Homo sapiens: one gene and its partner. The protein of the gene in region 1 interacts with the protein of each later gene in a pairwise test. Each region holds a gene or a part of one and is shown in the gene's direction. Other genes may lie near its edges. The genes, in order: SLC34A3 and CLRN1.

What was found.
Region 2: the proteins of SLC34A3 (region 1) and CLRN1 interact in binary tests that used the Homo sapiens proteins (3 or more experiments, as listed by UniProt).

Annotation. Positions count from the first base shown.
Region 1 is NC_000009.12:137,233,901-137,237,369, forward strand, and holds the end of SLC34A3 (sodium-dependent phosphate transport protein 2C), read left to right. Parts: coding exon 1-41; intron 42-208; coding exon 209-376; intron 377-515; coding exon 516-632; intron 633-706; coding exon 707-831; intron 832-1,390; coding exon of another isoform or gene 1,391-1,933; intron 1,934-2,051; coding exon 2,052-2,516; 3' UTR 2,517-2,655; downstream 2,656-3,469. UniProt on the Homo sapiens protein: Involved in actively transporting phosphate into cells via Na(+) cotransport in the renal brush border membrane. The cotransport has a Na(+):Pi stoichiometry of 2:1 and is electroneutral.
Region 2 is NC_000003.12:150,927,673-150,931,486, reverse strand, and holds part of CLRN1 (clarin-1), read left to right. Parts: intron 1-3,285; coding exon 3,286-3,551; 3' UTR 3,552-3,814. UniProt on the Homo sapiens protein: May have a role in the excitatory ribbon synapse junctions between hair cells and cochlear ganglion cells and presumably also in analogous synapses within the retina.

The DNA of each region.
Region 1 (3,469 bases):
CACAGAGAAGAACAGCACAGCCCCGGCGGACAGGCTGCCCTGTGAGGCCCGGCCCACCCCAAGCCCCCTACACCCCCCACACTCCCCCTCACCGGCCCCTACATGGAGAGGAACAGCACAGCCCCGGCGGACAGGCTGCCCTGTGAGGCCCGGCCCACCCCGGCCCACCCCCCAGGCTCCCCCTCACCTGCCCCTGCCCTGCCCCCAGGCCGCCACCTGTTTGCGGGCACGGAGCTCACGGACCTGGCCGTGGGCTGCATCCTGCTGGCCGGCTCCCTGCTGGTGCTCTGCGGCTGCCTGGTCCTCATAGTCAAGCTGCTCAACTCTGTGCTGCGCGGCCGCGTGGCCCAGGTCGTGAGGACAGTCATCAATGCGGGTGAGGGCGTGGGAGGAGGTGCGGTGGCCAGGGCTGACCCAGCATCCCCCATAGACTTCCCCTTCCCACCAGGCTGACTCGGGGGCTACCTGGCCCTCCTTGTGGGCGCTGGCCAGGGCTGACCCGGCATCCCCCACAGACTTCCCCTTCCCGCTGGGCTGGCTCGGCGGCTACCTGGCCGTCCTCGCGGGCGCCGGCCTGACCTTCGCACTGCAGAGCAGCAGCGTCTTCACGGCGGCCGTCGTGCCCCTCATGGGTGAGCAGGCAGGACAGAGGCCTCGGGAACGGGGGCTCGGGCTGGGGTCCTGTGGTGACTCCCAGTTCCCCCAGGGGTCGGGGTGATCAGTCTGGACCGGGCGTACCCCCTCTTACTGGGCTCCAACATCGGCACCACTACCACAGCCCTGCTGGCTGCCCTGGCCAGCCCCGCAGACAGGATGCTCAGCGCCCTGCAGGTACTGTCCACCCTGCCCCGCTGCCAGAACTGGCCAGCTTCCTCTCAGCCCCACAGACAGGAGTGTGTCACCAGCCCCGGGGCCCTAGGCTGGCTGTGCCCCCGCCTTCCTGGACCCCTTCCCTGGCCGCCAGCCTCAGCCCTGCTGCTCTGCCTCCTTGGACCCCACAGGTCCTGCACACATTTCACACCCTCCCTGCGTCTCCTCCCTTGAGACCTCCTCACTTCCACATTTTCTCAGCTCTTTGCTGTGTCCCTGGGGGCCTGCCCCCAGCATCTCAGGGGGCTCTAAGCCCCTCTATTCCAGCACCCTCAGATGCTTTCCCCCAACCCCTGCTCCCTCAAGGAGCAGCCACTCACCTCCAGCAGGTCCCCATCTGGACGACCCTCCCAGCCCCCATTCCACATCTGCAAAGGCCGAGTCCCACCGATGCTGGGCCCTGCCCTGCCGCTGCCAGGGCTGTGATTCTGCCTCCAGGACACTTCCCCCAGTCTGAGCCCCCAGCTCTGTGCCCCAACCCCAGTCTCATTTAGTCCAGCTGGTTCTCCCTCTAAAACAGCCCGTCTGCGGCCTGCTGCCCGGAGGCCCAACAGGTTCAGCTCCCGAAACTCCGGGTCATGCTGCACCGCCGCTGACAGGAAGAGACAAGTGCGGCACCCCCTGGAACCCACGCTCGTTCTTCTTGCCTCTGCCCTGTCTCTATCCACTTAGACCCTCCCAGTGCAGGGTCCTGCTCCACCCCCTGCAGGAAGCCCTCCAGACTGCACCTGTGTGTGGACTCCTCCAAGTCCGGCAGCCCCTGGAGGGGCCCGTGACACTGTTCTCCCCTCCTGTGGCCCTGTGCCTCCTCCCCGCAGGGCCTGGACTGTGCAGGCTCAGCACACTGGGGACTGAGGAGACGGGGTCTCTTGGCAGGAGGCACAGGCAGAGCCAGGTCGGAAGGTGCTTCCCCCGCAGGTCCCCCTTGAGGGCAGCAGTGATGCAGTCAGTGCTCGGGGGTGCTGGGCTGGACTGCAGCTCCCAGGAGCGTGCGGGAGGCGTGCTGGGGAACATGTCCACATCTGGCCACAGCCCGCCTCCCAGACGGCCATCTCATCCGTGAAGCAGGATGAACTTCAGACTTGGCGCTCCTTCTGTAGGGTGGAGGAGGGCAGGGGTCCGGGGCCCCTGGTGACCCCACCTCGTTGGGCCCAGGCCCCTGACAGCCCCCTCGCCCCCAGGTCGCCCTCATCCACTTCTTCTTCAACCTGGCCGGCATCCTGCTGTGGTACCTGGTGCCTGCACTGCGGCTGCCCATCCCGCTGGCCAGGCACTTCGGGGTGGTGACCGCCCGTTACCGCTGGGTGGCTGGGGTCTACCTGCTGCTCGGATTCCTGCTGCTGCCCCTGGCGGCCTTCGGGCTCTCCCTGGCAGGGGGCATGGAGCTGGCCGCTGTCGGGGGTCCCCTGGTGGGGCTGGTGCTCCTCGTCATCCTGGTTACTGTCCTGCAGCGGCGCCGGCCGGCCTGGCTGCCTGTCCGCCTGCGCTCCTGGGCCTGGCTCCCCGTCTGGCTCCATTCTCTGGAGCCCTGGGACCGCCTGGTGACCCGCTGCTGCCCCTGCAACGTCTGCAGCCCCCCGAAGGCCACCACCAAAGAGGCCTACTGCTACGAGAACCCTGAGATCTTGGCCTCCCAGCAGTTGTGACGGGCAGTTGCTGAGCAGACCGCCCCACCCTCCCCGGCTGGGAGGGCTCTGGAGGGCCCTGGAGGGGGGGTCCCCGCGGCAGCTGACCTCCGGTCACCTGCTTCCCCTTCTGTGCAAATAAACCAGGCTGTTATCTGGGGTGGCGGTCCTCACTCCCCTAGACAGGGGCCGCCTGCGCAGGTGGGGGAAGCAGCCCGATGCTGCCTCCTGGTGGACACTCCGGGGCCTGGGGCTCAGGCACAGGAGCCCGCCCACCCCAAGGTGTGTTTCTCACGGCAGCCGCTGGGGACAGAAGCTCCCAAGGAATGGCGGGCCTGGGGGGGCGGGGACTTCCCACAGTGGGAGCTGGGGCCCCTCCTGGGGGCGCAGGGGAGAGCCCAGCCAGCAGGGAGCAGGGCCGGTGGTGCAGGGTGTGGGGGATCCCGGAGCTCCTCTGCCCCGGCGGATGTCATGGTTGGGGTGGGGACTGGAGTCCCATCAGGTGCGTGGGGTGTGAGAAGGGACCCTGACGGCTTGGAGGGCCAGGTGGTCCCAGAGGCACCACCTGTCTGTCTGCCCTCTGTGTCTCTCAGCCGGTCCTGGGCTGGGCCCCTCGGGGACACTTCTCTGCAGGGCTGGGCCACGGCAGGTGCTCAGCTCCCAGAACCCACCAGGAAGCCAGTCTCACCCGCCAGGCTGGGGCACACTGAGGCCTCCCACTGCCACGGAGAATGAGACCCTGTCCCGGGAAGGCCTGTCCGTGGGGTGGGCCCAGGAGGGCGGACAGCACCCATGGGGAGGACTTGGGGGCCAGGGGGCCCTCCCTCTGCTGTGTGGTCGGGTTTCCACACAGGAAGGCTTGTCTGCCAGCCAATGGGTAACTGGACACCTAGGAAGTTGAGGGGGGGCTCCTGCCACCTCTAGCCCAGAGCTGCCCACAGCCCTAACCCAACCCCCACTCCCGCCAAGGGAAG
Region 2 (3,814 bases), on another chromosome or scaffold:
GTCCCAGGAGTATGGACTAAAATGTGAGTCAGGCATGCCAGATGGGTATGTTCTATTGACTTCAAGGATTCCTCATGCTGTGGGAAGGAACCTCTCCAGAAGAGAGACAGAGCAGAACCCTCTAAATGTGGGGCACAAAGCAGGAGCCCCTCTTGCTGGATTCAAAGGGTCATACTGGAAGAGTGTAGGTTGAGTCTTATTCTCACATCACTCATATCACTTACACACTTCTTTTATAGCCTTAGCAGCCATGCCACAAAGAGAAACTCTTCATGCATATCTTTTGGTCCATAAGTCATAAATAGTTATCCTTGATCCCATGTCTTTTTTAGAGCCATGGACAGAGAGAAGCAAAAATATACCAAGTTCACACTGAGTTGTCTCCCTTCATATCTCTTAGCAGTCACTGAAAGGTTATGAGACTCAGGCTGGGTTTCTATCCTCTGTCCCTGAAACGACAACGTTGACCTCGTGATCAACCCTAGAATCCAGAGCAAGATCTCAGACTGTCCTCTCTACTACCAGACAGCACACTTTGTTTTGGGGGCTGTGTGCTTGAAATATTAGCTATGGCAAAAGGCTTTGAGTCTTATGACACCCCAAGTAACTTTTACTTTAGGAATTTGAAATACAGCCTTGCTGTAATGCTGTCTCCTTAACAAAGCAGTACCTTTGAAATATTTAACAACTTGAAAAGGAAACCGAGCTTGAATTTTCCTTTCAGGTGCTCAGGAAATAATGTTTCACTTCTGTCTGAAATTCACCATCTCCTCAGACAAAGAAGGCTCTTATGGTAAAAGGAATGGCATTTTCTCCACAATTTTCGAATAAAAGATAAAGAGAAAACAGCACTGCAGCCTTTTTGTTAGGATCTAACAATAAAGAAATAATACGGTTTTGCCAGGGGAGAGCTCTGGTTTTAAGCTCAGAATACAAAAATAGGCTGACAAAATTTTACAAAGGAATATTCTCAGCTACCACTCTGAGGATGGTAGAAAGTGAAATTTCAAGAAAATTATATTATTTGATTATTTGATGATGATTAAGCTGATTGGCCAGTCCTATGTGAAATTCTAAAGTAGAAGAAATGTGATGTTGTCTTTTCTGCTCACCTCTCCCCTCATTCCTACCCCCAAATCTCTGCCTCTACCCCAAACCCAGCCTGACCTTTGGGAAAGGAATGGGGGCTGTCACTTGCACCGTAGCTCCTCCTGCCTGCAGTACTCTCCCCCCACAGTCCAGCCTCCCTCTGCTCAGCTAACTTTTCCTATAGCTCCTTCTGGCTACTTCTAAGGAACCTTCCATAATGCTGCCCACCCTCTCAGTAACAGCCCCTCTACTATCCCTTGATTACATGCACTGTAATTGGTTAGTAATTGATTTTATGTCCTCTGCCAAATTATACTCCATGAGAGCAAAAATCATGAGTATTATCTTTAATGTTTAAATCTCCACAACTATCCCCCATATAAGTCTAGAGAATAAATGAATGAGTGAATTAATGAATAGAAACTCAAGCCATTATGTTGCCACTCCTAGGATATTTGGATTAACTTTAACTGAAGAGTAAAAAGCATTTACCTGTCCTAAAGGAGACATAAAATTAGTGGGAGAGTATTTGGAGAAAAAAAAGACACTGTAATACATTCTTTTGTGTTGCCTACCCTGATGTAGTCAGGTGTCCCTGATATGGGGTGGGCTGAGGATTTGAAATAAAATACCTAATTTGACATTGTAAGTGGAGGAATCAGGATTTGAAACCAAATTGGTTTGACCTAAATCAAGCTATTATGATAAGGACTTGCAAGAAAAAAGGAATCCATAAAAACCATATGAATAGCTACCAATTAGTAAGCATTTATATGTGTCAATTACAAAGCCAAATGCAAATCATGCTTTATTTATATTAGCCACCTTTTATAGATGAAGAAATTGAGACCTGAATATTAAAATTGCCTACTTTTACATAGTAAGTAAAGGAATCAGGGTTTGAACCCAAATTGGTTTCACCTAAGGTAGAAAACCATCCCAGCAAGTCTCCTATTAACTGGAACCCTATTGTGGTGGCCTGAGATATAACAGTAGCTGTGGAAGCGCTGTAGAGTCCTGGCCATCCTATGTGCTCCTGATCTGGTCCCTCCTGCCACCTGCTTCTGCTCCCTGTGCCATCCACCCATCTGGAAGTCTCCCAGTGTCCATCTTCGGGGGAGACACTCACCAGAGTTTCCAGCTTCCAGCCAGTATGGAGTGCCCCTGTCCCACAGCAATCTCACCGAAATCACAGCTACATCTGTTAAAATTAGGCTACCAATGAGTGATAGATGAGGGGGAAAAATAATAATAGTGTACTAAACAAAACAAATGTTTATTTTTCTCACACATAAAAATCTAGAGGTTGAAGTCCAGGGCTGGTCCAGAGGCTCCAAGGATCTGGGATTTAGACTCCCTCTTTCTTGTTTTTCCACAGCATATGGCTTCCATTTCTGGGGCCACATTGGTCCAAAATGTATGCTGGGGCTCCAGCCATTGCATCCATATTTCAGCCACAGGAAGGAGGAAGTGGGGAAGAAAGGACAGGCCCCTAATACCTGTATAGTTCAAGAAGACTATCCCGCCCATACTTCCCAACCACCCTTAGTTGAACAATGCTGTCTTAATTCAAGACACTCACATGTCTAGCCAAAAATCTGAATTCTGTTACAAACAAGGAGAATAGAGATGTGCGCCACCTCAATACCTCATCCATAGCTACCTTTTCCTTTGTGCAGCTGTGGCCAAGTGAAAGCTGAAGGAGCTGTGGTAACCCTTCTGAAGGGAGGCTGGGGCCTTTCACAAGAGGCTGCATGATTGACATTTATCCTGCATGGCCTGTGAAGTACAGAGAAATATTTTCTCTTGAAGCCACATCATAGCAGTGGCTGCTTTGTAGCCTGATTCCACCATTATGCCTTTAAAGTGCCTAGCAATTCAGCCTTCACATCATGCAAAGAGGAATATCTCCCAGTCTTTGTAAGATCAGCTTAATTCTAACCACCTCCTTACCTCCCACTGCACTCCTACACGCACACACAAATCTTCTTCACTCAGAGCAGAACCATAACCCAAGCCCTACCACCTAGAGACTGAAGAATCAGGCTCATGATTACAAATATGCAATAATTTTTTGTGTGGATAATGTCAATGGGGATGATGGTAAGAGAATTCCTTGGTTTACACATTGACCCTCTTCCCTGTCCCTTACAATCAGGAAATATTTGTCCCAACACCTTGTTTCTTCTGTTGCAGGCTCCTGTGGCTGTCTTGTCATGATATTGTTTGCCTCTGAAGTGAAAATCCATCACCTCTCAGAAAAAATTGCAAATTATAAAGAAGGGACTTATGTCTACAAAACGCAAAGTGAAAAATATACCACCTCATTCTGGGTCATTTTCTTTTGCTTTTTTGTTCATTTTCTGAATGGGCTCCTAATACGACTTGCTGGATTTCAGTTCCCTTTTGCAAAATCTAAAGACGCAGAAACAACTAATGTAGCTGCAGATCTAATGTACTGAAAGGCAAACCTTTCTATAATTTTACAAGGGAGTAGACTTGCTTTGGTCACTTTTAGATGTGGTTAATTTTGCATATCCTTTTAGTCTGCATATATTAAAGCATCAGGACCCTTCGTGACAATGTTTACAAATTACGTACTAAGGATACAGGCTGGAAAGTAAGGGAAGCAGAAGGAAGGCTTTGAAAAGTTGTTTTATCTGGTGGGAAATTGCTTGACCCAGGTAGTCAAAGGCAGTTGACTAGAATCGACAAATTGTTACTC